4 linked regions of the Homo sapiens genome follow. The protein of the gene in region 3 purifies or fractionates together with the protein of the main gene of each other region. This does not show direct contact. Each region holds a gene or a part of one and is shown on either strand. Other genes may lie near its edges.

The links.
Region 1: the proteins of LMX1B (region 3) and PBX3 purify together in Homo sapiens (affinity purification with mass spectrometry; 3 studies listed by BioGRID and IntAct, with this or other methods). This does not show direct contact.
Region 2: the proteins of LMX1B (region 3) and PBX1 purify together in Homo sapiens (affinity purification with mass spectrometry; 3 studies listed by BioGRID and IntAct, with this or other methods). This does not show direct contact.
Region 4: the proteins of LMX1B (region 3) and PARS2 purify together in Homo sapiens (affinity purification with mass spectrometry; 3 studies listed by BioGRID and IntAct, with this or other methods). This does not show direct contact.

The regions. Positions count from the first base shown.
Region 1 is NC_000009.12:125,960,347-125,967,375, forward strand, and holds part of PBX3 (pre-B-cell leukemia transcription factor 3), read left to right. Parts: intron 1-337; coding exon 338-503; intron 504-1,755; coding exon 1,756-1,868; intron 1,869-2,665; coding exon 2,666-2,755; exon of another isoform or gene 2,756-2,829; intron 2,830-5,484; coding exon 5,485-5,577; 3' UTR 5,578-7,029. UniProt on the Homo sapiens protein: Transcriptional activator that binds the sequence 5'-ATCAATCAA-3'.
Region 2 is NC_000001.11:164,786,184-164,793,212, forward strand, and holds part of PBX1 (pre-B-cell leukemia transcription factor 1), read left to right. Parts: intron 1-6,310; coding exon 6,311-6,555; intron 6,556-7,029. UniProt on the Homo sapiens protein: Transcription factor which binds the DNA sequence 5'-TGATTGAT-3' as part of a heterodimer with HOX proteins such as HOXA1, HOXA5, HOXB7 and HOXB8. Binds to the DNA sequence 5'-TGATTGAC-3' in complex with a nuclear factor which is not a class I HOX protein.
Region 3 is NC_000009.12:126,686,899-126,693,927, reverse strand, and holds part of LMX1B (LIM homeobox transcription factor 1-beta), read right to left. Parts: intron 3,093-7,029; coding exon 2,860-3,092; intron 787-2,859; coding exon 605-786; intron 405-604; coding exon 327-404; intron 183-326; coding exon 116-182; coding exon of another isoform or gene 83-115; intron 1-82. UniProt on the Homo sapiens protein: Transcription factor involved in the regulation of podocyte-expressed genes. Essential for the specification of dorsal limb fate at both the zeugopodal and autopodal levels.
Region 4 is NC_000001.11:54,761,524-54,769,518, forward strand, and holds the start of PARS2 (probable proline--tRNA ligase, mitochondrial precursor), read right to left. Parts: upstream 3,001-7,995; 5' UTR 2,938-3,000; intron 1-2,937. UniProt on the Homo sapiens protein: Mitochondrial aminoacyl-tRNA synthetase that catalyzes the specific attachment of the proline amino acid (aa) to the homologous transfer RNA (tRNA), further participating in protein synthesis.

The sequences.
Region 1 (7,029 bases), 730 kb from region 3:
TATTTCCTTCAGCTTTTCAGCCTGATTTTGGGGGCCTGACTATTTATATACTAATCGGTATATAGCAGTTGGATATCTTTTATGAGCAGCGCTCCCTGCCGTTTTGGTATTACTGTGGCCAACTCTAAGAAAGCAGCGTTATTCCAAAAGAATGTGAGAGTTTTGCCAAAAGAGAAAATAACCCCCAAAACCATTATGCATGATCCATAGGATGTGAGGTTGCAGGCTAGGAATTGTGTGTCTCCCAAGGTATTGCCTTGGTGTCCAGCAGGTATTATTGGAATTTGATTACTTCTTCCTCTCTTCCCCTTCACCTCCATGTCCCTGCAATTTGTAGGTATCCAATTGGTTTGGCAACAAACGAATCAGGTACAAGAAGAACATTGGCAAGTTTCAGGAAGAAGCCAACCTCTATGCTGCAAAGACGGCCGTGACAGCTGCACACGCAGTAGCAGCAGCTGTGCAGAACAACCAGACCAATTCGCCCACCACACCAAATTCCGGTGCGTACTGGGGGCTCGCTCCCCAACTGGCCCAGGCAGCCTTATGCCACAATGCCCTGTCCCACAGGCCAGGAAACAAGAGCCATACTGAGGACAGAGTGGACTTAAAAAGGAAGATTTATGTTCAAATGCAGGCTTGTTCTTGAGATGGGTGAATGAGTGGAAGGTCAGAGCCTGTAAACCCACTCTTCACAGTGAATGCCACTCACTAGTAGATTATGGAAGTTTTACAATTAGTAGTGGCTTTCAGTTCAGTAATTAGGCAGAGTGCTATCGCTCATGACTATTTTAGCTATTTCTTTCCAGATACCACTTTAGGGTCAGTAGTGGTCTGTGGAGAGTGAAATAGCAGAAGTGGGAAATGCAGCAGTTGCTGTGTGTGAGGAAGCTGGAATGCTGGAGGGAAGTGCAGCAGTGCTTTCTGCCCAGCACCGCTGTCCTTTCTCTGCCTTTCAGCAGCACTGTCTGAGCGGGGCTGACGGCATGCTCAGCAGGTGGCTAGCTGTGAGGGTTATGGTGCTTAATACATGCATGCAAGATTCTTGGATCCTCGTCCGGTACATTTTGGCTGCATTTTATGTGACGTTTGTGAGGGGGTTAGAAATACTTTAAAATTTCAGGGAACTTGAATAACAATGAAAGATGTGCAGCTAGTCCAAACAGATGGACTTCAGTAGCAATTCCAGGGGCGTTTCTGAGAAGGTCTCTTAGCTATATCTTTAGAAGTTCAGAAAGTAGGGGGGTTTTTGTTTGTTTTGTCTTGTCTCCTCACCCCCCAGTTCTTTTTAATGGCACATAAAAACAGATGAAAGGAGAGGGAGGTATATGCATAGCGAAGAAAGAGCTCCTGGAAAAGTCTCTTCTCTGGGTGGCTGTCCACTGTGACAGCCATGTTGACAAGCTCGTGTAATGACTAAATCCTGGAGATGAGTGGAAACAAGGGGAAGGGTCCAGGCCAGCTGCTGGGTGTTTTGGTTTATTTTTTCTTTTTAATTTATTTTGATTTGTCTCTTTGTTTTTGCTTTTGTTTTTTAAGTTTGGGCTTCCCCACTGATGGGACTTCTCCTAGATGTGGAGTGACTCACAGGACCCAACTCTCTGGAGTTACTCTCCATCCTCTTAGATCTGGAAATGCTTTATGTTGTGCACAGCCTTTCCCTTCTGTACTTTTTCTCATCTCCCTGCCTCTAGGTCTTTGAGGATTATGTGTGTAGCTCTCTGTTATTCAGCTACTTAACTCTTTCCTTTCCAGGTTCTTCTGGTTCTTTTAACCTCCCAAATTCTGGGGACATGTTCATGAACATGCAGAGTCTGAATGGGGATTCTTACCAAGGGTCCCAAGTCGGAGCCAATGTGCAATCACAGGTAGGAGAAATGCCCCAGTGGGGCCTTTCTAGCAGGGTAGGGTTTGGGCTCAAAACTCCTTCCTCTGACCCCATGGAAGTGGTCTACACATCCATGCAGAACCTGTGCTGGGTGCTTCCAACCAGGACCCATCTGCCCCACCATTTAATTTAATGAGAAGTCAAGTGAACAGTGACTTGTGATGATTCAAACCTGATAAACTTTGTGAATGCATTCGGCTCTGGCTTGAGCTCATGGAGAGGGGTTGGGTGCATCTTACTTTTGTCACAAAATAGAACAGAAAAATTGAGTGTGCCAGTGTGTATATGGTTTAAGAACATGTTGCTGTTTCATTTCTCAAGTCAGAGTACAAAAACCTGAGTTCTTAAATTATAACTCTATAATTTCTACTCTTTTCTTGTCCTCTTATTTGAGAACAGAACTATTCATATAGTTTTTATACATCTAGATGTATGTGTATGAGACATAGAGAAAGTGAGAGAAAGAGAGTTGAGATAATTCCATATACACAATTCTAAGTAGGCTTTCACCCACAGCCACATCCATTTGGTTGCTGTAGATGGAAAGTTGCATTGCCATGAAGATGTTATTGTTTGGCTGGCATGAAAAACAAAGATTTGTGAGTTTAAATATGCAAAGAATGGTTGAAATTCTGCCAGTCACATTTGATTGATAAATTTGTCTTTCATTGAAGATGTTAAACCCTTGTGGCACACATAATTCAAATTATTTCCTTTTGTAAGTGATGACGTTTTAATAGATTTGGGATGATGAATTTTGTTTTGTCTCACTTCTAGGTGGATACCCTCCGTCATGTTATCAATCAGACGGGAGGCTACAGTGATGGCCTTGGAGGAAATTCACTGTACAGTCCACATAATTTAAATGTGAGTACTCTGGGGAGTCAGCTGTAGGAGAACAGTGTCAGGTAAACAGTGACTAATAAAGAAATTAATAGCCATTTGACCTGGCTTCTCATCTTCTTGGCAGGTAGGGAAGGCAGCGTCTTTGCTGCACTTTTATTTTAAGAACCTAAATGCTTGATGCCGTCTAGATACCCTTAGAAGTCCTCATAGATGCCCAGAAATGGCTGGTGTCCTGTCATCAGCAGGGACTTAAGCATCAGCCCATTAAGACGCCATTTCCTACCATCAGTGCTGTGCTCCAGGGAGACGGTAGAAAACAGGTCATTTATCTTAGAACCAGGCAGCGGGAAAAATTCCCAAACAGAACTCAGGTGAAGGTGGTAAGTTTGGAGAATCCCAGGCAGACCAGCAAACCAAGCTAAACAAATAATTGTGTTATTAAAAGCATCTTGCTGTATTGTCAATGTGGGATGCACAACATATTTGACAATTTTAATTATGGAGGAAATAATTTTAACTTTTGTAACTACTTCACTACAACTTTACCTTTCCCTCCACTGACATGGATGGAAAATGGCAAAACACACAGCTCTGGAAAAGGGGGAAGGGGGCAGGGGAGCAGGTCATCGTGGTGGTGCTGCGGGGTGTGGTGGATGGAGTCTGGGGTTCTAGACTTAGGAAGGAAATTAACTGCCCAGCTCACGGTAGTAGACTCAGGAAGAAAATGGGCAAAATTCTTCCTTTTTAGGGCCTTGGCTTGCTACGAGAGTAAATATTAATGATTTAAAAAGTGATTGAGGATGTTCAATTGTAAAGGGAAAAAAGGACCATTAAATACTCAAATCTTTTACATTTGAAATGTCAAATCTTTCTTTTTGGGCTTATAAATAACTCATAATAACCCACAACAAACCATATAAAAAGCCTTTTAGTTGCATTTCTCCTTTTTCATTTAAGTGTTTTGAAATGCTTCAGAGAATGTGCGATATCCTTATCAACATGATAAAATATGAAACTGTGATTGCCTGCAGCATTTTACAGACATGAATTCCATCTTCACTGATGAGGCTTGATAAGGCGCTGTTGTATAATACAGTGCATAATCTCAAACCACCAGAGTAAGGATTAATTTATTTTGAAAAAAAAGAATGCTTGCTGACAACCTCTCCTCCAGCTGCCATGCTGGGTAAAAATATTGTACATTTGTTGTTTATAAATTTGGATAAAAGAGGAATGATGTTTACTTCAGATGGAATATCTTTAGACTTGTATCTGTGTGAGAGTTTTTCTTTTCCTAAGTAGATTTTCATACCTGAGGGGGGAAACAGCTTACCTTTTAGAGAAGAGGATTTCTGAGAGTCCACCGAACACACATGGGCATGTCATTAGCCAACCTGGCAAAACAGAGGCTTTAAAACAATACCACCATAGCTTTTTTTTTTTTTTAAATACTGTTTCCTTTTGTTTTTCCTAACCTGAATTTGATATGCCTCAAGCCTGGAAAATCCTCTTCCCTTAGGGTCTGGTCATCTCTGTGGGGTTCTTAGGTCATAGAGGTAGAAAAGGTGCTTTGCATGCCAACTCTGCAGTGAATTAGAAGACAGGGAGTTCTCCAGGAACTGTGATCACAGAAGAAGAAACAATGGCTGCCACATGCTCATCTAGGAGCTGTATCTAGGCTGGGCAGGGAATCTAGACAAGAGTTCTCAGCAGCCTGGCAGCCCAGGCCTGAAAGAGGGCATTTTGGATGGACTTGCAGAGGAAGTTGCAAATAGATGTGAGGGAGGCAGGAGGCACCTTATGACCCACCCTGACATTGGTGTAGGAGGTCCGGGTCTGGGGGCAGCATGGCGGCAGAGGGTGGTTGGTGCTGCAGGCACGGGGAGCCTGCTCACCCTCACCTCCTCTCCAGAAAGGCCTGCCCCATCACTTCCACTCAGTGTTCCCCAACTCACGAGGCTGGCACCTCCCTCTTCCTGACTGACATAAAAATATGTAGCGACAAGCTGTCTGCCACAGCAGAAATCTGATCAGACATTGATTTCAGCAATTGCCACTATAGGCCAAGACATAAGGCAAATTTGTTTCTGAGTACGGTTATTGCTGCTGCAGGTCTGAGGCAGGAAGGGCCAGCAGCATGTGGAAGGTGGGAGCAACATCCCAAATAGGAGCCTCAGCCACAGATAATTGGAATACAGATTTTAACAGTGTGTGCTGCTCTGCGGCTCATGCATTTTCATTCTGGAAGATCCTATTTGGAGGGAAATTCTGGCCTTCACTTTCCAAGGGTTACAGTAGCTGGCTGTCAGGCGTGTATGGAAAAAGGGTGGGCAACTGCTTCTCTATGGAAATGATGATTAAGCCGGGGTGAAGTTTAGACTTCATGGAGCCCTGGGTTTCGCTGAGGCATTGCATTGAGCTTCTCCACTGCTCCCTTCTGAAGAGATTTCTTTTTGAGTCACTTTAGTTTTACCAGCAGATCAAAGGCCGAGCTCGATGCCAGCATGGGCCTCGCTGAAGCCCTTCTTCGGCGTGTTGATTTATTGCCAAGACTTTACTTGATGGGATGGATTTGTTTTACATGCATTTAATCCCACTTTAACACATGCTGCCAACTCCTGCCACAGTGGGTTTAGAAAATACATTTTGCTAATGCATCTCTGCTCTCATGTTGTCATCCGGGTGTTTTAAATTGGGGAGTAGAATTAATATGTAGACGTGCACCCGTTGAACTGTGTTTCTCCTTTCAGGCTAATGGAGGCTGGCAGGACGCAACAACTCCATCTTCTGTGACTTCTCCTACAGAAGGCCCAGGAAGTGTGCACTCGGATACCTCTAACTAATCTCTGGCCACACTTTTCCCTGAGCTACATGCCTTGATAAGTGCATTCAGAGCAATAGGAGGAAAAGGAAAGCGTTTTTGTAGCCCACCATCTACAGCTTTACTGTAAAACCTTGTCTTATTCGAGAACTTGGTAAATCTGTTTTTTAAGGAATCATAATCATTTGTATTTATACTTAAAAACACACAATGTTAAAAAAAATAAAGCACTTTATCCAATTAGGCCAAGATTTAACATTGTTGACAGTCCTGTAGCTATTTTATCATAATTTATTATCAATATTTTACATTAATGGTTTCACAGTTGCCAATTACTTGGCCTTAAGGGTAAAAAGTACAATATACACTAAACCTCAACCGTTAAAGCAGATGCAAAAATTCACCTCACCTAAATTGAACTTCTTGCATATTTCCATTACTGACTTGGATTGTCTTTCTTTCATATCACTAATGGAGTTGGAATAAAGAGCTGTTTGCCTATCCCTGTTAATGATGGTTGTGTTTAAGAATCTTCCTCGTCACGTTTGTGTTCAGATCTCTTATGTTATAATTAGATCAGAGACTGGTAGCATCGTTTCTCTCTCTGAAAGCACCAGTGCCCAGAGTCTGCTCGGTAATAAAATTATGGATCCAGATTGTTCTGAGAGACGAAGATACTTGCTGCTGATAGAGGTGAAAACGAGATTGATCCGTCTGGGGTTTTACGGTGTGCACTGGGTGCTGCACAGACTTGTCAAGGTTTGCTACGTCCTCTGGGCATCTGCAAAAGGCCCTGCTCTCTGGAGTGTTGTATATAGTGTAGCAAAAGAGTATTTATACATCCCACCAATCAAAACACAGCTTTATTACCTCATGCGAACTCATACAAACCAATAGAATTTCAACATGTTCTGTAGCTTAGAGTGCTCACTTACTACCTCTGAACAATACTCACGCTGTAGTTTGTCTCTTTCTTATCTTTTTGCATCTTGTAATTAACTCTTTGTTTCCCTTCATAAAATGTAATGTACATTGTAATCTTTTAAAAGAAAAATCAGGGTTGCACTTGCAACTTTTAAAAAACCGAGTGTGGAAACATTGGGTCTTAATTCAACACAGGATCGGTAAAACTGTTGTAAATACTGAGAAACATTTTGAATGTTCTTCATCTTATTACTAATCCATGCAAAAAAAAAAAAAAAAGCAGCGACTAATTGTGATGCATTCAGATTTCAGTATTCAGTACTGTATATTTCACCCTGTGTAATGGGGCCCCCTCTCCTTTCTCTCTTTTTGTATTGTATGCGATTCTGAAACTGATTGAGTCATGAAAATAATTTGTGGCGGTGATTCTAATGTATTAAAAACGTTTCGTGTTCCTTTCTAACTGGATTACACCCTGGATTGAAAAAGTCTTCCTCGTGGTAGTTATATGTAGTTTCAAACATGAATAAACTTTTTGCTTTCATGATTA
Region 2 (7,029 bases), on a different chromosome or scaffold from region 3:
CCTCCTTGATTCTTTATTATATTGCTCTTAAGAAATATTGGAACAGACATTTAGTGTCAGGGGCCCTGTGAGGTTGTGTGGGGAACCGCCTTTCAGGAGTTCACAGTCTTGCTGGCAAGATGGTAGGTGTGCCCTGGCATGTCCTGAGATGCCCCATGGCTGTGGTCTAGGCAGTACGTGCCCTGGTGCCTCAGAGGCTTAGAGATCATTTTCGGCTCTTCTCGTCAGGGCAGATTTCATGAAGGATTTTGAGCTGAGATTTAAAATGAAATAGGACTGTAGTAAGTGGATTTCTGTGGCTGAGAAAGAAGAGGGCATTCTATCACCCAATACAGTGGCTCTAACCATGATGGTGGAAAGAGGTAATGGGAAAGGACCAGATTTAGAGAAATTAAAAGAAATTAGGAAATCAATAGAAAAAACTTCCTTCTTTCCATTACTATCTGATTGTTTTCTTCTTGGCCAGAGTATCGGTGTGCCTTGGGCATCAGAAGAGACTGTGTGTGTGTGTGTGTGTGTGTGTGTGTGTGTGTGTGTGCGCGCGCACACACACACACGCACAGAATAGATATCACATCCATGTAGCTGCCTGTTGTGAAAAGGATTCAGAACTCCAATATTGTAGAGGACTGAAGTGTCTGAGAGTTAAAGATCTAGAGTTCAGTGTCGGCTGTGTCTCATTTGCTTTGATTTTGGGGAAATGTGCTTTGCCTTTATAATCTTCGGTTATCTGCTATGTAAGTTTGGAACATTACTTCATGTTTTGTAAGGTGATGTAATTCAGTGCGTGCAAGTACTTTATGAACAAATAAAAGGTATAACTCTGATGCTCTCAGGAAGCAAGCATTTTGCTCTTTTCCTAAAACTGCATAGCTGACTTGGGAATGAGGCGGGGAGAGCTGGTCTCTCTTTTCTAACTCTTCTGGTAGGATGTGGTAAAGACTGAGCTCCTGGGCAATAGAACACTCTGCATGGAGGTTTGTGCCTACAAATCAAACAAAGAGATCAGCCAGAGAGAGCCTGCCTTTTTGCACACACCGTTGGGAGGCTACCTTGTGCCTTTCCCCAGACCACCTGCCTCTGCTTTCTGTCTTGTTCTTTATCTGTTTCTCTCTCTCAGCTCAGCTTTGGGCCCCTGGACTGTTGTCCAAATCTGAAGACCACCCTCCCTGTAGATCTGCCCTCCTCCCCTCCCAACCTGCCCCCACCTGTGGAAGTTTGAATCTGAGCAGAGGCATTCCCCCAGCATGAACCTGGACACTTGACTGTCCGCCCGCCTGGAGAACCAGTCCTTGGTGAAGAAAGAGTGCCCTCTAGTGGGCATTGGCTGGAGCTGCTCCGGACCCACGTCACTCAGCCAAGGACAAAACAACCCGCCACACGGCCCTCCCGCCAAGGATGATCTTGACTATGCCTTTGGGTTTGGTTTGTTTTTCTCCTTGTGTGAAGAAAAAGAAAGAAAGAACAGCAGGAGACAAGTGGTGAGAGCAGCTCCCACAATGCTGTGACAGTCCCTTTATCTTAGGACTTTTACCAAAGAATTAACCCCAGGGCAAGCGATGGCAGCAAGGTACATGTGACATCAGAAGCTTTTTAAAGGACTTGTGACAATTCCTGTATAAATCACCTACCTGTCTCAACTGGTCTCTTCCATAATTGGGTGGATTTGTGGGAAGGAAACTCTTTCTGTAAGAATGATTACCAAATGGGTTAAATATCTTCATGGGCGCAACCCCTCTGCAGATTGCATATCCACTGCAATCAATGACATTTTTCGGGTAGTGGACGCGTCCGGGCCTGCCTGGCCATTAAAACCCTATATGCATGAGGACAAACAAGGGATTTGGCCCTTTAAAACCTATTTCAGAAAAAAGCTGCTGGGGTGGGGAGGGAAGAGATGAGGGGGAGGGAGAGAGCGCAGGGCACCCATCAGGGAAGCAGGAACCTGATCATATGTGATGGTTGCTGGATTAGGTAACAGCTCCGCTGGTTGAAATTGGATCTTGGAGGATGAGTGTTAACATCTCTGGTGTCCTGGCGAAAGGTTCATTTGAGTCTTGCATGGTGCTGCAGAGATAAAAAGGAGCTTTTAAATAATCATTTTGTCTCCTACTCACCAGAGTACTGGCTTCCAGCAATAAATAGGTAGCATCAGTTCTGCTTAGACATATCACCCTTTTCATTTATTTATTTAATGTTGGTGTTTTTTTTTTTTTTTAACCGCCGAGCTGAACAGTTTGTGTATCAGTGAATCCCAACACCCATTCTTAATAGTGGTATATTTGGATTCTCCTTGCGCTGGCTACAAATATGAGCATGCAAGGTTGTTTATTGGTCCATCCCTGTCCCCTCCAAGCATTACAGACACAGCCCAAATCCACCAGAACTGAATTTTCTATGCAAAATAGTGCAAGATGGTTTTCTTTTAAGGTTTTCCCTTGTTCATATTGTTCCTTAAAAAAATTTTTTTTGGGTTTTTGCACAATCATTTTCTATTTTCATAATTTGAGTATAATTTAAAGGGTGTAATTTGGAAATGACTGTTGTTGGTTTTTCTACCCGCCGCCCTCCCCCCCCCGCCCTTTTCTTTTCATTCTTTTGTTTTCTTCAGAACTCTGATTGGGGACCTATTTATGTGTCTTGAACTCTAAGTGTAAATGCAAGCAATATTTATGCCGTGGTGCATTGTATCTATCTTATCAATTTCTAATTGGCCACATTTAGAAACTAAGTCTATTAACTCATAGTGAATTCAAATTTCTTTTTAGGGAGTATTTATTTGCAGGATTCACAAAATGATGTGAAAGCTAAGCGAAATACTAACACTTTCTTGCCCCAGCCAACCCACCACCACTGCGCCCAATTAAATGTATCCTTCATACCTGAAAGAAAAGAGGCAGTATGCTTTATGCTTTAAGCTTTGCAACCCTCCTGAAACTTCCATGGCGGGTAGGGGCTTGCAGTTTATCCTTTCAGTGTTCTTTGCCAGCCTTGACAATTTCCTTTCTTATTTTATTTAAAACCAGTTAGATTTGAAGGCCAAGAAATGTATTAATTAGGAGGTGTGTAGAGTTTGTGTGAAATTGTTTGTGCTTCCCATTGACTATTTTAAAAAGATGGTGTTTTAAAAAGATGGAGCAGAGGCATGAAACTGAGAGGGGTTGGAAAGAGGAAATATTCTCAGAGGTTAATATTAGGTATATGGGAAATATTCATAGTGATGTGTGCGTGATCACCTGTGTAGCTCCTGGAGGAGCGAGGATCAGAACTGTCTCTCTGCCTTGCCTCTCCCTTCTTTCATACCTCACTGAGTTTGGCTGGAGGAATAAGCTGATGGAATGAATGAGGCCGCTTGGGGTACCCATGTGATTGGAGGAGGTAGGATACTTGATGTCAGCTCAAGTAGGCAGTGCTTAACACTAGCCCTGGCAAGGCAAGTCCTGACCATTAATAGGACATCATTCTTTTTTGCTTTGCTGTTGTTGTTGAGACCAGAGGTTGTCCTAAAATCTCTCAGTGTTGGGCCGCATGCAGGACCAGTTGGGTGTGGAGTAGCCAGGTGGACCCACTTGAAGGCATTAACACCCAGCTGAAGGGTTACCAGCCTCAGCTTCGTGGGGAATGTTCCTGCCAGCCGTGGGGGCTTACGGCCTCTTCTGAAGGAAGTATATTGGACATGAGATTCAGTGAGCGAATGAGAGAGTAGAATTTTGCCCCAGCACAATGTTTTGAATAATCGAGCTAAAGTGAAACAACTATATTTATTAATGGCTCAGAGGCGATTCTTTTTTTTTTCTAATTTGTAAATGACCCATAAATTTCTTTGTGGATAAGGCTATTAAAATTTATCATATAAAGAGAAACAACCACATAGAGGTGAAGGAGAGGCTGCTGGGCGCTGCTGCCAGATGTTTGGATGCCCCGAGATTCTTTTCGGTGCCTTTAGGGCCTGGTATTCAGGGCATGGTTACAGCAGCCATCTACTTTCTTAAGGAAACCTTTGTTAGTGGCAATTTGTTCTTCAGAGTGCTTCGGAGATTTAAGTAAATAAATTTAAGAAACAATAACGTGACTAAATCCTTATTGTGCAAAGATCAGCCAAAGGAGCAGTTTCCCATTCAGTCTCCTGAGCCTACAAAGGAAGGATTTTATTGGAAAAAAAAGTCCACAAAATAAACCTCAATGACCTCCTAACCTTTTGCCGTCACCACTATGGCAATTTTGTTTTTGTGTAGCAGAATATTACATATTCAGGTTTGAAGAGAGAAGATCATGACGTGGTAGTGTTGTGGTTTGCGTCTAGGGTGCAGGCTTCCTTCTTTTCTCCTTCCCAGCTACCTGCTCTCCCTCCTCCCTCCCTCCTTTCCTTCCTCTCATCCTTTTTTACTTCACCACGGAGCCCAAGCTTCTGCCCTGCACCTTTTGTCCTCTTTGCTCTTTATGGCCACCACTGATCCACATGGCTCGCCATTCCATTTGATGGTCTCGTGTTTTGTGAGAGCCATACTGTAGTTTTCCTTTTGGCCTAGGAATTGGGATTTCCTTCTGAACAACGTTCAGGGTTGGTTCTTTTGCTGCCTGTTGGCAGCCAGGAGCATGTGGGCACAGCCAGCAGTTATGCTGGTATTATATGTGATGACGCTCAAACATCTAGACATACCCTCATTGAGCTCATCTTCACCTTCCCTGTTACAACCCGAAGCCCTGCTTTGCCAGGGCTGGGAGACACCTGGAACTGGCACTGTCCCCCTGGGGCTCACCAGATGCACTCTGCCATGAAAACAGCTCTTGACTGTGCTCTGGTGTGTGGATATCCACCAGGGACTTAGACCCTGCCACCTCCATCCCCAAAATGTCAACCAACACCGGACCCCTCTCCTCTGCCTTTAATCACTTCCCTCTTTCCCACCCTACCCACACATTCTTTTCAATTTCTTAAAAATTGAAAACACTTTTTATGTTCCCTCTTAACAAAGACTTGGCTGCTGACAACTGAACTGGATTTAGATGAGTGATTTATTTTATGGGAGGTTGTCTGAAGGGGTAGTAAAAAAGACTGTCTCGCTCTTCTGCTGATTTACTAAATCACTGGATCTCCTTCAGTCCAAATCACCACCAAGGGTCCTGGTGTTTTCATAAAGATCAGCCATCTCATTGATCTGAGACGCCATCCTACCAGAGCACTGGCTTCCCTGAAACCCTGGAGACAGCTTGTTAAAAGGACCTCACCCTTGTTTCCAACAGGACAGAGTCCTTATCACTCGGAACACATAGATCTCAATGTTTGGAGCTAAACGACCCTGCTCAAGGGCCAATTTGTCTTCTTGCTATGTTAGACCTCACTCTCTGCTAGTCCACAGGAAAGGTCTGAAGATTTCGTTCCACATGTACTGGATTTGTGTACTTCAGGTGATTTTGGAAATGAAAAATTTAGACTGATCAAGCATTGCAAAGAAAGGCAATGAGTGCACAACCACAGACTTATGGAAATTTAAAAGGAGAAATAAAGAGGGAAATGCTTTTCCTTAAATTGAAATTAGGTAGTATGGGGATGAAAGTAAAAAATATATTTTGTTATGATTACATTTTTCTAGTTGAAATTTTTTATTGTGGTAAAATATATATAAGATAGAATTTACCTTTTTGGGGGGTGGGGGTGTGGAGTCTTGCTCTGTTGCCCAGGCTGGAGTGCAATGAGTGGCGTGATCTCAGCTCACTGCAGCCTCCGCCTCCTGGGTTCAAGGGATTCCCCTGCCTCAGCCTCCCGAGTAGCTGGGACTACAGGCACGCACCACCACGCCTGGCTAATTTTTTGTATTTTAGTAGAGACGGGGTTTCACCATGTTTGCCAGGATGGTCTCGATCTCCTGACCTCGTGATCAACCCCCCACTCAGCCTCCCAAAGTGCCGAATTTACCATTTTAAACTATTTTTAAGTGTACAGTTGAGTATTATTTTGCAGCCATCTCAAAAACTCAGCTTCCCAAAGTGAAATTCTGCGCTCATTAAACAATAGCTCCCCACTCCTCCCCACAACTCATGGTACCCATTATTCTACTTTCTGCCTCTTATAAATTTGATTATTCGAGATTCCACATACAAGTGGAGTGTAATTTTGGAACAAAGCAAGTCCCTCCTTCATTTTCTCACCCTCTCAGTTTCTCTCTTTTTCCAGCCTTTCTTCTATTCCTCAAATGGCATCTTGCAAGTAACTTGGCAGCTTATGTAGCCAAAGAACACAAATGTGTTGTGTTTTTTATTTTCTTTCTTGGGTTACTATTAACGCTCCCTTCCCTGTCTTTTTCTGTAGTTTTGAGTATCCGAGGAGCCCAGGAGGAGGAACCCACAGACCCCCAGCTGATGCGGCTGGACAACATGCTGTTAGCGGAAGGCGTGGCGGGGCCTGAGAAGGGCGGAGGGTCGGCGGCAGCGGCGGCAGCGGCGGCGGCTTCTGGAGGGGCAGGTTCAGACAACTCAGTGGAGCATTCAGATTACAGAGCCAAACTCTCACAGATCAGACAAATCTACCATACGGAGCTGGAGAAATACGAGCAGGTAACCAGAACCACCTGGGGCTCGGCACCCAGGCCCTTTAGGAAAGGGTGGAGGAAGCACAACCCCGGGGCTTGCAGAGAGGAGCGGCTCACCTTTCCCAGGTGCTGGCATCCCTGTGCCCGGCATCCCCTGCCCAGCCACAGAGCCCTGGCCAAACTTGAGTCTGCCAAGTCCTGGTCTCAACTGTTAAAAACCTAGGCATTCAATGGAGGTAAAGGCATTAAAAAATGTGTGACGCTGTAAATGATTTCAAGGAAACATAAATCGTGCATAGAAGGAACACTCCATACCTGGACTCCAGAACGTGTGTCTGTGATGTGCAGGCCTGGCTCTCATCCGGGCGCTATAGGTGATCAGCAGAGTCACCAGCTAACCTGCAAGAAGGTGGGAGGTTTTCTCTGGCCCTTGTTTTTCCTTATTTATCAGGAGGCCTATACTTTTTCTGGGTGCTCATAGTATCCTATGGGAAAGGAC
Region 3 (7,029 bases):
CCTGGCCCAGGCTCACCCAGCCCCAGCCTCTGCCCCAGCTCACCCTGGCCTAGGCCCACCCCTGGCCCCGGCCCCAGCTCACCCTGGCCCAGGCCCTGCCCCGGCCCCGGCTCACCCTGGCCCAGCCGCTGGGAGTTCTGCTGCTCCTGCTGCTGCTGGTGCCGCCGCGCCAGCTTCTTCATCTGCAGGGAGAGCGCAGTTCAGGCCGGTGCTGCCCCTCGCCCCCAGGCACAGCCAGCCCCACGCCCCCTGGACCGTAGTCTTCTGGCTGCCCCCTCTAGTCCCACCCTACCCGGGGCCAGTGGGGATGGGGGGTGGCCTCTTACCTTTGCTCTTTGGTTCTGAAACCAGACCTGGACCACGCGCACACTGAGGCCCGTCTCAGCTGCCAGTGTCTCTCGGACCTGGCTCAGAGAGAGGGGAACAGGTCAGGCCCTCCAGGGGCAGCAACGGGGAGATGGTGGGTTTAGGGGTATGATGGGATGTGCGGAGAGATGGAGGATGGAGGGATGTCCCTACCCCCAGCAGGAGCAGGGGGTGGTCTCCAGAAAGGCAGTGGGTGTGCGGGCATCAGCCTGAGCCCCGCCCCCCGGCCGCCCCTCACCTTTCGGCAAGGCTTCGACGAGACCTCGAAGGAGGCCTTGAAGGCTCTTCGCTGCTGCGTGGTGAGGATGGTCCGGGGTCGCTTGGGCCTCCGCGGGTCCTTCCCGTCATCCCCGCTGCCCTTGCTCTGACTGCCCTGCCCCTTGGCCGGCTTCATGTCCCCATCTTCATCCTCGCTCTTCACTGTGGGGGACACAACCCGGCCTGTGATGAAGGGGCGGGGGCAGCCCAGGCCTCAGCCTTGTCCCCTTCGGCAACCTGCTGCCCGATGGGAGCCTGTCCCCTCTGTTGACACCTGCCGTGGCTCCCCAGTGGCCCAGGATAAGATCTCCTTCCCTCCCGTGGCCCACAGGCCCTACCTCATCTGGGCCCTGGTCTCCTGCCTGCTGTACCCTGCGAGTCCCTTCCCCGGCACACACGCCTCACTCCCTCATCCTGGGCCGCAGGGCACACCTGCACAGGAACTCACACAGGTGCGCCTCGGACAACCACAGCACAGGCATGCACACACGTACATGTGGCTGCACACACTTTCAGGAAGGCAGGCCCACTCGGGGAACAGGCAGACAGGTGCACGCACGGTTGTGCACATGGCTGTGTGGACATACACGAAAGTGTGCAAGCAAAGACACACACCACAGATATTCACACAAGAGTGCTTCTGACCACAGCGTATGCACGCACACACTCGTAAGATGCACACTCACCTGCTGCCACATACACGTGGGCTCACAAAGGCCCTCACGCGTGCAACTCACAGGCGTATTCACACACATGGGCCCATGCTCACGGGCAGGAACGTACAGGCATGCATGCATCTGGACAGACACACACAGCGTGCGGAAGCATGTGCATTCTCCCAGTGCTACAGCCACACCCACCATGCACACATGGCACTTCCCCGCCCCAGGTTTGGGTCTCAGAAATGCCAGCAGCCCCAGATGGATGGCCAAGCCTCCCCAGCCACCACTGGGCCTCCCGCTGCCCCCCAGGCTGGTCTCCTTTCTTCAATCCTGTTCTTGGAGTATGAGGCGGGTGATCTCCTCCCACTGAGACCCCCTCTGCTGGGGCTGGCCAGCCTCTGCTCTTCCTCAGGAGTCCAGGCAGCTGGAAGCCATGGAGCTGGCTGCAGCAGTGCCCTGCCCAGGGATGGGTAGGGACAGATGGTGGTGGGCTCACTGCCTCCACGCAGGCCCTGGCCATGGAAAACCCTTCCCATGTGGCAGATCCTGTTGCCGGAGGGCTCCAGGTTACCCATGGGGCCTGGCAGACCGGGACACCTCCTCTCCATGCCTCCTGCTCCAGTCCTTCCCCACTGTTCCCAGGAAGAACAAGGACCAAAGCCACCTCCTGGGCTTTCCCTCCTTAAGGCTCACTCCTGGCTGGGCTTGCCCTGTCTGCCAGGAGGCCTTCAAATTGGCCTCGTCCTTTTGGGGGCTAGAGCAGAGGAGGGAGGGTCCTTCACCCTGGGAAATGGGGTCTTTCCCTCCAGCACAGAGGGCCCAGCCCCCTCCCTTCGGCTGGGAAACAGAGGCTGGCTCGAGGCTGTTTGCTTCTCACTGCTGAAGGCTCCAGGGGGCTGAGAAGGGGAAGGCACATCATCTCCCTGCCTCTCAGGCATCCCCAGCCTGTGGACTGGGTGCTGGTGAAGACCCCTGTGGAGCTGGGCTGCGGGTTGGTGGGGGGCCATCAAGGCAGAGAGGGTAAGGGGGGTGGGCCAGAGAACAAGAGGTGTGTGTGTGCACACAAGCACAATCCACAGTACATGTGAGCATGTGGACAAACATATATGTGCAGCCATGTGGACCGGTGTTTAGTGCACAAGTGTGCTGTGTCATGTGTGTATGTGTATGTATGCTTAAGTGTGTACACTTGTGTGTGTGGACCTGGGTGTGGCTTTTGAATTCCCGGGTATGTGAACACATATCTCCACATACATGTACATGTATCCATACTCAGGGTAGGGGTATTCCTGCATGCATTTTATGTGCTTGTGTGCACACATGTGATCACACATATGTTTATATGTATGGATGCGTAGGTCTCAGGGGTAGTGTGCCTGGGGGGATGCATGTTCGTATCATGTGCACACAGGTGGACACGTCAGTGCGCGTGTGCATCTGGATATGCATGTACCATCTGTGTGCAGCTCAGGTCCTGGAAGCAGGAGGTGGCTTCTCCAGCCGGGACTCCCCTCCAGGACACCCCAGCAACCCCCGTCCCTGAGGCCTGCCCCCAGCTCAGGCCAGGCCTCACCGGAGTCGGACTCGTCGGGGCTCACGGAGCTGAGCAGGTCCTTCTCCTTCTCGTAGTCACCCTTGCACAGCAGCTGGCCCTCCTTGAGCACGAATTCGTCGCCCTTGCGTAGCTGCCGTTCACACACGCAGCAGCAGAAGCAGCCCAGGTGGTACACGCACTCCAGCGCCCGCATCACGAACTCGGTGGGGGCGATCTTCTCCATGCAGCCGCTGCACTTGGCCGCGAAGAGCCTGCGGATGCACAAAGCGGGCGTGTTGGCGGTGCTCAGAAGTCCCTCCCAGAGGCCACTCCTGCCGAGGGCCTCTCCCTCTTGCCACCCTGACCCTCAGGCCCAGGTGGGAGGGAGAGGCCCTCCTTGGGCACCAGGTCAGACAGCAGAAGGGCCCTGCAGCCCTATTCTTCTGCCTACAGGCCCCCAGTGGCCCTGGGGTGGGTGCTGGCATCCTGCCTAGAGTCACCTGTCCCGGGCGTGGCAGCTCAGGGCCCTTCCAGCTCAGAGACACGGTGGCCACAAGAGGGCAGTGTGGAGGGTCCACTCAAACTTTCCTTGGGGGCCAGGTCAGCCCCTGGCTGGAAAGGATCCTTTCTACCTCAGCTCCCTGGTCTGCCTCTCCTCTGATCCTCCCTCACCAACACATCCAAGCAATTCCCAGCCCTGCCCAACCCACTGCCCAGCCTGGGCCCCTCCTCTCCTGCCCGAGCAACTGCCTGGTCCCCTCTCTGGGCTCCTGGCCCCTTCAATCCTTCAAACCCCAGCCCACACAGGAACCGTCACACACACAGGAGCCAGGGGGATCTTTCTAAAATACAAATCGGATCAAGCTGCTTCCCTGCTCCAGACTCTTCCATGGCTCCCTAGTGCCCTTAGGAGACCATCCGAGCTCCTGAGGCTGGCACTCAAGGCCCTTCATGATCCCGCCTCTTCCCTTTCTACCCTCTGCTTCCCCAGGCTGCAGCCCCAAAGAACAGCCTGCAGTTTCTCCAGAGCACTATCATGGCAGCCATCTTTCGACCCATCTTTCTCTGTCCTTTGGCTTGGCTAACACCTTCCCATCCCTCCGTCTCAGCTTACGCATCTCCATCACGAACAGATATTCACTGAGCACGTATAGAGTGCCAGCCCTGCTCTAAGCATCTTATATGCAGAGACGCATTTAATCCTTGCAACAACCCTGCAAGAAAAGAATGAACATTAACCCCATTTTAGAGATGAGGAAATTGAGGTGCTAAGAGGCAGAGTTGCTTGCTCAGGGTCGCATGGGTAGTAAATGCTGGAGGCAACTCCCAGGCTGGGCCTAATCCAGCTTCCACATGACAACGTGATTCCATCTCCCATCTCCCATCATCTCTGCAGACAAACGAGGGCCGGGAGAGGTGGTCTCCGGGCCCTGGTCAGCACTAGCAGGAGGGCTGGGCAGCACGGCCCCTCCTCTGCTGTGTCTGCTGACCGCTCCTCCCGACACTCCCCCACCCTGTCACGTGTCCTGCTCTGTGGGAACTCAGCTCAACAACACTTTGATGGAAAAATTTATGAAGAATCAAATTATTGCTGCTGGGAGGGAATTAAAACCATTTTTCATTCCCGGCGTCCCCGGGCCATGTCTGCGGGCGCCACCTTGGGAGCGCTGTGCACATCCCATCCCTCTTTATGGCCCACCATCACGGGCACAGATTACAGCTGCAATTCTCTACTAATCGGTTCTGGAACAGAAATGGCCATAAATGGGAGGCACTCGCCTGCCTCCCTTCCTGGAGCTGCCGTCAGAACCGCCCACGGCGAGCTGGTGGGGCGAAGTGGGCAGGGCCACTTGGAGCTCTGCATGCTGCCTGGGCACTGGCCAGAGCACTCAGCAGGGGGCACCCCCAGCAACCCCTGCCACCCACCTCTATTCTACCCAGCAGGCTCCTACTCATCCTGCAATGCCCAACTCCAATGCCACCTCCTCTGGGAAGCCTTCTCTGATGCCCCAGTCTGGGGGAGGTAGCCTCCTCTATGCTCCCCTCAGCGTCCCCCACCTCAGTTTACTCCTGTAAAATGGAGATGTCAAGCCCTTCCTGAAGGCTGTTGTCAGGATTCGAGGATGCTGAGCATGTAACTCAGTACACGGGTATCACAGCAGAATGACAATGCATGTCCCTGTTGGTGCCCAACTCTACCACCTCTACCAGGGTTCCATGAGACAGGACCTGGCCCCATCTGATCCTCAAGGGGGCCTCCGTGAGTGTTTACAGAGTAGGTGAGTAAAGGCCTGGGGTGAGCTGAGGCTGAGGCCAGGCTCTGCTCTGGGCATGCTGGACCCCACCAGCCTGCAGGGCATGGCTCTGCAAGGGGAATGTGGGCTGGATTTTGGCTCTAATTTGGCCCTCTGGCTGAATCCCCTTGTTCAGGGCACAACCTACCCAACTGTCAGTGACAGCTTTAGGCAGAGGCCCTAGGAATCTGGCTGGCTGTCCAGCTCTCCCGAGGGGCTGAGGAAGGAGCCTGGGTTTGTAGAACCCGGTGCTCTGACATGGAGGGTGGTCCTCCCCCAACCCCTACTGCCCCTCTGTCCCCTCCCCACACTCCACCTGACCTAGTGGCCACACTAAGGTCTGCAGCCTGACCTCTGCGGCCTCTGAGTGGACAGACACTGGCCGTGTCGCTGCTAGCGTGGGAGCGCCACGGTCCCAGGGTCCCAGGCCAGGGTCAGCACACCTTGGGTGACTCCCGGAGAGGAAACCTTCTTAGGCTGGGGAAGGGGCAGCAGGGCGGGTGACCTGCATTTGCAGTCAAAGCCACAGTGCTGGCTGTGCTCAGAACAGCCGCGCTAATGCCTTGGCAGCAGGGGGTCGATTGCTACTTTCTCCAAACTCATCAACACAATCTATTATTAATACTTCTCCAAAGGCTCAGTGCCGCCATTACAGAGGCAGCGCCAGCCACTCAGGGTATCATCTGTTATCTAGATTGCAAAAACTCAGGAAATAAAACAAACTGCGCGCACTTTATAAACAGAATGCGCCATCCGTTTGGTCTCCAAGCATCTCTCCACCCAATAAAACATCGGGGGGGATGCATGAAATACTCACTCCCAATTATGGGGCTGCCTTTGTCTACTGTGCTGGGGTGAGAGCGACTAATGGCGTGTATGGGAGGGGTTGGGGATACCAGCGGGGTTCCCTCTTCTCTGTGAGCCCCCATTCCCCCTCTCTTCGTGCCTCCCACCACGGAGGACTATGGAGCCAGCCACTGAGAAGAAGGCCCAGCCACAGACAGGTGGCATTGGAATCACATGGACTTGAGTTCCATGCCTTGTCCCACCACTTGCTAGCTGGTGACCGGGCAAGTAATTTTTCTTCTCGAGCCTCAGCTCACTTATCTATACAATGGGCTGGACAACACTGCCTGCATCTCAGCATGAAGATGTAGCGAGTTGTCAGTGTAAAGCAGCAGGTGTGGCGGGCACAACCTCCATAACTTCCTTGCTGTGCAGCTTTAGGCAAGGCATTTGACCTCTCTGAACCTCAAATTCTTCATCTATAAAATGGGAATGATCAGGCCAGCGCGGTGGCTCACGCCTGTGATCCCAGCACTTTGGGAGGCTGAGGCGGGCGGATCACTTAAGGTTAGGAGTTCAAAACCAGCCTGGCCAACATGGTGAAACCCCGTCTCTACTAAAAATACAAAAAATTAGCCGGGTATGGTGGCACACACCTGTAATCCTAGCTACTCCGGAGGTTGAGGCAAGAGAATCACTTGAACCTGGGAGGTGGAGATTGTGGTGAGCCAAGACCGCACCACTGCACTCCAGCCTGGGCGACAGAGAGAGACTCCGTCTCAAAAAATATATAAAAAATAAAAAAAAAAAGGGAATGATCATCCCCGACCATGGGGTTGTTGGCAGGGGCTGGATGCATTTAAAGCCCTCGGCACCATGCTGGCATGAAGAAGGTACTCCAGGTACCCCACATTTCTTTTGTTCGGTGTGTGCCCAAAACGCCTTTGTTGCTCACCCTTGCTAGAGTCTCCATGATTCCTGGGGGCAGCCTCCCTGACGCTGACTGGGTTTACAGGGCCCCACTGTGCCTCCTTCTCACCACCACCCCGGGTTCCGGCCAGCCCTTCTAGCTTGTTTGGCCTGATCTGGACAGAGCACTCCTGGCTCCGTTATCAGTCTCAGAACATTA
Region 4 (7,995 bases), on a different chromosome or scaffold from region 3:
TATATATTTGGGAGAGGCGTTGAAGAATGGAATTACTGAATCAAAGGCTATAAATTCTTTTGAGACTTTTTATTTGTATTGCCAAATTTAGTGAGTACCTCTACTTTTCAGCACAGTCCATGCAACAAAGCTCCCGGCAGTATGCTGGGTATGGGTTGCTGATTCCCCTCAGCTCTAGGGAGCTGGGATCTCCCAGCTGGTTACCTCTAGCAGCCTCAGGTCCTCCAGCTTGTCCCCTCCAACCTCAAGCAGCCTCATTCATTTCCCCTGTGCACTGTACAAATGTTTAAAGGTGGTCAGGCACTGCCACAGAGCCCTAGTGTGGTGTTGTAGGAACGTACGGGCCATGGAGGCAAGGCACATGTGGATTCACCCCTGGCTCTATAACTTCCTTGTGATCCAACCTTACTTAGGGCAGTGGCTCCAGCCAGAAACTCATCCTTGATTCCTCCTAAAGCAAATGAGTCTGTCTCAAGGTTTCCCTTAAGTCCACCCCCTCCTTTCTGGCCCTTACTGCCTCAACATTAGGTTAGCCCCTCAATACCACTTGCTACATTACAGTTACCCAGTGGTTCTGAAATCTAATTGAGCATCAGAATCGCTGGAGGGCTTGTTTTTTTTTTTTTTTTTTTAGAGACAGAGTTCACTCTATCACCCAGGCTGGAGTGCAGTGGTGCAATGTCAGATCACTGCAACCTCCGTACCCCCAGCCTCAAGAGATTCTCTTGCCTCAGCCTCCTGAGTAGCTGGAATTACAGGCATGTGCCACCATGCCCAACTATTTTTCATATTTTTAGTACAGACAGAGTTTCACCATGTTGGCCAGGCTGGTCTCAAACTCCTTGACCTCAAGTGATCAGCCCGCCACGGCCTCCCAAAGTGCTGGGATTACAGGCGTGAGCCACCATGCCCGGTTGGGTTTGTTAAAACAGTGATTGCAGAGGCCCATCTCCAGAGCTTCTCATTTAGTAAGTTTGGGGTGTGGGCAGAGAACCTGTATTTCTAACAAGTTCCCAGGTGACACAGATGCTGCTGGTCCAGGGACCCCACTGGGAGAACCACTGCAGGGGTCTAGCTGTGTACCACCAATGACTAATGTCTTAAACTCCATGAAGACGACAGCTATGTCTATTTTATTCCAAGTTTTATCTGCAGCATTCAGCACAGTGCCTGGACACAGTGGACACTCAATAACATGTTCCTTTTTTTCTTTCTTAAAAAATAGAGATGGAGTCTTGCTATGTTGCCCAGGCTGGTCTTGAACTCCTGGCCTCATGCGATCCACCTGCCTCAGCTTCCCAAATTGCTGGGATTATAGGTGTGAGCCACTGTGCCCAGGCTCAATACATGTTCTATCAATGAATGAATGGAGTAATTCTTGAACCCTGTCAGTCCAGTCTCCGTATTAGTCTCCAGCTAAAAAGATAGCTGACCCAATCACTCCCCTGTTTACAATCCATTAACGGCTGGCTCTCATAATTTTCTCAGAATGGCACCAAAGCTCTTCACATTTTGATCCCAACACACCTCTTCCAGCTTCTTATCCTAGCATTCCCCAAGTTGCTCATTATTCTTGAAACAGACTGACCTCCCCCCAACCCCCAGCAATTCCAACTGGAATTCAAGGTTCACTTACTCCAAGAAACTTTCTCCAACCCCTCTAAACAGAGAAAGTCACCTCCTCTGTGCTCCACTGCACACACCTCTTTTTAGTATACTGTATTAGAATCATCTCCAAAAATATTTTTGAGGAACTATTGTGTGCCAGGCATTGGAAGCGAATGGTGTTTCACATACAATTTTTTTTCTTTCTGGGGGTGTGTACGGGGGCCAGGAGGGGAGGTCAGTGTCGATGTTTAACATTCTATTCCTTGATGAAATTACAAGTTTATGAAGTTTTATACATCTTTAAATTTCAGAGTCTCGCATAATGCCTACTATTTAGGCTATTATTATCTGTTGATCAAATATGTTAATAAATTAAGAGCAAAGCAAACAGGTGCAATGATATAATTATCTGGATAATTTAAACGAGAGCTTTAAACTCTTCTCCTCCACGTTTAGCATGTCTGTCCTCAGACCCCTCAGCTTATACAAACAGGAGAATAAGTAGAATTATCTCAGTTTTTCAGGAGCAATACAGTAACTAACGTATGCAACACTTCAGGCTCTGGCAAACAGCCTCTGAGACATTCAGTCGATTTTTTTGAGTACCTACTCTGTCGGGACACTGTCAGCCCTTCCAGCCCAGGCCTTTTTAAAGATTCTTTGACTCACCATTGCCCCCCAATCTAATCAGAAAAGTTGTACCTAAAGCGTTTACAACCGTACCTGATACATAATATTAAGTCTCACAAAGTGCTATTATTATTATTATTATGCCCAACTCAGAAAAGGGAGGCTCTGAAATATAAAGTCACTTGTGTCAAGCCACACAGCAAATAAGCGCAGGGTCGGGCCTGGAAGGCAAGGTCCCCGCCTCCAAATCCTACAGTTTCCATCACGAACTGTGCTACATTAAACAGCAATGGAACCCTAGGCCTAGTTCTAAGAACAAGCTCGGCCTTCACTCGCTCGGTGACCCTGGACCACTCACTTCGCCCCGGACCTCCGTTTTCTCCAACATAAAACGGGAAGGCTGGCTCAGGCAGCAGGTGGTCCCAGGGCCTTTCCAGAGCTGGCACTTCGAGAACTGTGTGACTCTCACGACGACCGAGGGAGAGACCAGGAAGTGCTGCCCTCATTTTACAACGGAGGACACGGAGACCAGGAGTATCGAAAAGTTTATGGGATTCTCGCCCGCCCCAACTCAAGGACGGGATGCAAGTGGGAAAACGGACACCAGGGTCCTAGGTCTCCGCGCCCACACCGCGTGCTCGCTTCATTTCGCTGCCCGCGCCCGTCCCTCAGGTCTGGGAGTCACCCACGTTCACCTACCGCAATCCCAGCCCACGCCTCCCGCAAGACCACCGCCGTGCCGGGCCAGCGCGCTTGCGCCTCGAGCAAGCCCGCTCCTAAGCCCCGCCTCCTGCCCTTTTCGCCAATTGCAAAGCCGCGCTCACGGAGGCGGGGCCGAGGGCAGGGGCGCTCTGGCCCCGCCCCACGCTAGGCGCGCGTGAGAGGTTTTCCGGAAGTGTAGCCAAAGAGCGAGTACCCGGCTTTCCCCAAGATCGTTGATTGGCCAGGGCAGCCTTGAGTAAATCACCGTTCCGGAAGTACTTTCTAGGAACTTGGGAGGTATAACTCTATGATGACTTGAGGGTGCTCTTCCTGCCCCTGCCAGGCCCCGCCCACTCCCCCAATAGGAGAACCACTGGCGACAGTGTAACCATGACGACACACTGGGCAGTGTAGTTTCTAATCTATCCTATGATTTTTACGGGCTTTCCATTTAAATAGTATAAAATTGTGAAACAGTTTGAGAAAGACGCCTTTATTACAGTGCCCAAGACAGTCTTTAAGACACAGATTCAAACTTCCATTCACAAAATATTTTTTGAGCTGCTACCACGTAGAAGCCACTGCTGTAGACACTGGGGACAGTGAAGTGAACCAAACAGACAAAATTAACTGCGTTCAGTGTAGCTTGTGTTCTAGAGAGGACACAGTCAATAAACCAATAGAGCGAAATTTAAGCAGGGCAGGGAATGGGAGCAAAGAACTCAGTAACCAAGATAAACAGTATTTTAATACAATTGTTTTTTTAAAAAAACAAAATGCAAAAAATCCATGGCAAACAAAATATCAAAATTTAAAAGAATCTGTCAGTCAGATGGTGATAAGGGCTATAAAGAAAAAATTAGAGAAGGAGAATGGAGTGGGGGAGTTAAGTGTTTGCAATTTTTTTCTTTGTTTTTTTGAGACGGAGTTTTGCTCTTGTCGCCCAGGCTGGAGTACAATGGCGCGTTCTCGGCTCACTGCAACCTCCTTCTCCCGGGTTTAAGCAATTCTTCTGCCTCAACCTCCCGAGTAGCTGGGATTACAGGTGCCCACCACGTCCGACTACTTTTTGTATTTTTAGTAGAGATGGGGTTTCACCATATTGGCTAGGCTAGTCTTGAACTCCTGACCTCAGGTGGTGATACACCCACCTCGGCCTCCCAAACTGTTGGGATTATAGGTGTGAGCCACCGCGCCCAGCCAAGTGTTTGCAATTTAAAATAGGAGGATCAGGAAAAACCTCATCAAGTAGGTGGCGTTTTTAGCAAAGACCAGAAGGGGGTGAGAGACAGAGCCTTGCAGGGGAAGAAATTTCCAGACACAGGAAACAAGAAATGCAAATGTCCTGAAGTGGGAACTGCATGTTATATAACTCAACCTGATAACAACTACAGTTATTGAATGCCTAAAACATACCAGACCCAATGCAAGACACTGGTGATTCCGATACTGGCCCCAAGAAGCTCTCAGTACGACAGGATCTTCCAGGAACAACTCCGTGTGATCAGTGGTGTGATAGGGGCTGAGCAAACCCCTGCGGGAGCGTGGGAAAAGAAGGCTTCACTGAGGAGGTTACCTTTGAGCTGGACCTGAAGGATGAATGGGGTCTACCCAGACAAGAATGGCAGTGGGAGTGGAGTGCCAATGTTCAGGCAGAGGGACCAGGACATTCAAAGGCACAGCTCAGGAAATGATGAGCCAGTGTGAGGGAAGCATGGGGTGTGGTGTGGTTTACATCTTTATTTCTCCCAGCTCCTCACACAGAGCTTGGCACACAGGCCAGAGCAGTGATTCTCAACCTTGACTGCATTAGAGTCATTATATGCACCCACTGCCACCCTCTGTCCCAAGATGCTGGTTGTGCAGACATTATTATTTTATAGTTCCCCAGGAAATTCTAATGTGCACCGGGGTTAGATCTGCAGCCCTAGAGGAAAGGCACTGGACAACCTAGTGGTGGAGGCGGCAGGGGTAGATGCCATGTTATTATCCTGGTCTTACAGTTGAAGAAAACACAGCTTGGGTGGAGCACACGACTGCATTTGCCTACCAGCTAGGAGGCCAGGCAGGGCTGGGGTGGACCTGAGCTCTTTTGTCTCTAAGAGCCTTGCTCAGCCTTTATAGCCCAGAGCTGTGGTAGAGGCTTTCCCCAAGGAGTGCAGTCCCAGAGGTTTCGCTGGACTGATATTTCTCACTCCTCCTCTTTGGGGGCAGGGGGCAAATAAACTTCAGAATTTCTTGGATCTACATATCCAAAGTAGCCTTTAATTTCTCCCTGTTCCTGTGCACGTTGTTACATCCCTTCCGATCCTGGAAAAGCCAGGCAGCTGTCCTCAGCACCCTGAGGTGTTAATTATTTCTCAATTAGCAGTCCCTAGGCTGTAGAGCATAGTGGTGTGGAGAGGCCTAATGACTTGCCGTGTTTATACACCCCCACATCTTCAGAGCACTTTACCAATGGTAACTAATTAATGCTCACAACCCCCTTGGGAGGCAGGCCAAGAATGCTGCATTTTACTGTGAGATTGCAGGAGGCTCTGTAGCTCCAGGCTGCAGAGTCCTATCAAGACAGTCACAGAGTAGATTTGCTCCCCATTGAGAGAGTCCAGGGTGGTGGAGATCCCAAGGTCGTGGAAACCCAGAATCTAGCCCTGTTGCTGCTAGTGACTTCCTGTGCGATATTTCAGTCAATCAATTGATCAGAATTTATTGAATGACTTAGTTTACAGAGCTTATTCATGGTTAAAGCCCCATGACGCACCACTCCACCCCCTGCAATAAAAACAAAAACAAAAAAACCCACACAGAAAAAAATCTATTCATTCCCTCATTTATTAATTGGTTATCACAAAGAAATAAAGCAAGAAGAGGACTCCACACCTGCCTTGGTGCCCCACAGCTCTGGGGACACACCACGCACTTAGCAATTTCCCTTAGCCAGAATAGGATCTCCTTGAGGGCAAGAAAAGGTTTTGCTTTTTTCTCTATCCTCATCCCTGAGCAGAGGGCCTGGCCCGGTGTTGGGGCTTATCACAGGGTTTTGCTTTTTGGTTTATGTGTTGTTTTAATATAGCAATCAATAAATGAATGGATGGTTTGTCTTCCCTCAGATCATGGGCTCCTCTGAGGACACACTGAATCGTCCTTGCATCCAGAGCCCCTTGCCTGGCATCAGGAGGGGCTCTGAATGTGTGTTGAATAAGCAAATGAAGGCAGAGTTAATGATGAACTCCCCAACCTCATGAGCTCACGGCCTCCTGGAGAGGCTGCCTTTGAAAGCGGTGACACAGTGCCCTGTGGTAAGAAGCTGTGAGGAGGGAAGTGCAAGGTGCCGAGCGAACACACTGCAGATTGGGGGGTTGGGAAAGGACGTGACATTCAGCCATGAGGTGGGATCAGGGAGGGCTTCTCAGAGGAGGGGTACTTGGAATTGACCTTAAGGAATACATAGGAGCTTCCCAAGCCAAAAATGGGATGGAAAGACATTCTGGTCAGAGAGGCAATAAATTGCTTCTGATAAGGAAGATGGCTAGAGATAGTTCTGGCTGGAGCATAGAGCACCCCCAGGTGTCATGGACACACAACTGGACAGCCATCAGAAGCCAGGTGCAGCAGGGTCTGCTGGACAAATCTCTGAGTTTATCTCCATCTTTGTGGCCATTGAAACCTTTCTGATGAGGAACGATACTCCTCTCTGCCCCTCTCTTCCCCCCAACACACACAAACTCCTGCTCTGAGCACAATCCCTGGACACTTTGCGTCCCACTCTGTAGCATGGACTTGTCGTAACTTGAAAGTATAATTGGCACCACAGGGAGGCAGCCTTCTCCTCTGCTGCATGCCCCTAGGCAGACACTGCTCATGTGAGAAGCAGGCCTGTGGGCAAAAGAGGGTTCTACACCAGGAGAGGACTGGTCCACTGTGTTTCTTTGTCTGAAGTGAGAGCTCAGATTGGAGGAGGAGGATGGCGAGAGAGGCCGGAAAGGAGACTCCTATAATAGCCCAGACTAGGGCAGTGGGTGGGAGAGGAAGAGACAGATTCCAGAGACATCTGTCCAGAGACAGTCCACCTGGTGGACTCCTGAGCCCACCCCTGCACCCTTAGCCCAGCTCAGCCCAGACAGGCTGGACTGTGAGGGTGGCTTTGCAGTCAGGAAGGCCTTGACTAGGAATCTGCCCAGGCTCTTCTCAGCTACATGACCTTGGTGAGTTACTTATACATTTCTTTATCCATAAGACAGAAATCATAATAGCATCCCATGGGGCTGTTATGAAGGGACACTGAGCAATGTCATCGAAAGCTTCCAGCCCATCCCTCAACACTTATTTACTCACTTTCTCTCCCATGTTGACTCTGGGGACCTTACTGCTCCCCTCATCCATCGTAAGGAGAGAACCCTCATCCTACTGCTGCTGCCTCTGGTTCTGAAAGACTCCCCACTCTCGCCACTGTGTAGGATGCAAATCTTTGGTCTTTGAGAGCCCCTTCTCCTTGGGCCCAGAGCACACCACTTGTTCATTTTTTCAGTGCCTAAGCCTAGCAGAGTGGAGGCCAGCAGGGATCAGGAAGGTGGGACTCTGTTTTTATGAGGAGTCCTCAGAATTAGAGTGTGGCTACTACTATCATCACCATCCACATCATCAGTAACATTTATGGAGCCCTTGCCATGTGCCAGGGACAATATTAACTACTTTACACCCATGTCTTTTTCTTTCTTTCTTTCTTTCTTTTTTAAGACACAGTCTTGCTCTGTCGCTTAGGATGGAGTGCAGTGGCTTGAGCTCGGCTCAGTGCAACCTCTGCCTCCCAGGTTCAAGCAATTCTCATGCCTCAGCCTCCTGAGTAGCTGGGACTACAGGTGCACACCAGCACGCCCAGCTATTTTTTTTTTTTTTTTTTGTATTTTAGTAGAGACGGGGTTTCACATGTTGTCTAGGCTGGTCCAGAACTCCTGAGCTCGGGCAATCTGCCACCTTGGCCTCCCAAAGTGTTGGGATTACAGGCGTGAGCCACCACGCCTGGCCCATTTTACCCCTATGTCTGATTAAATCCTT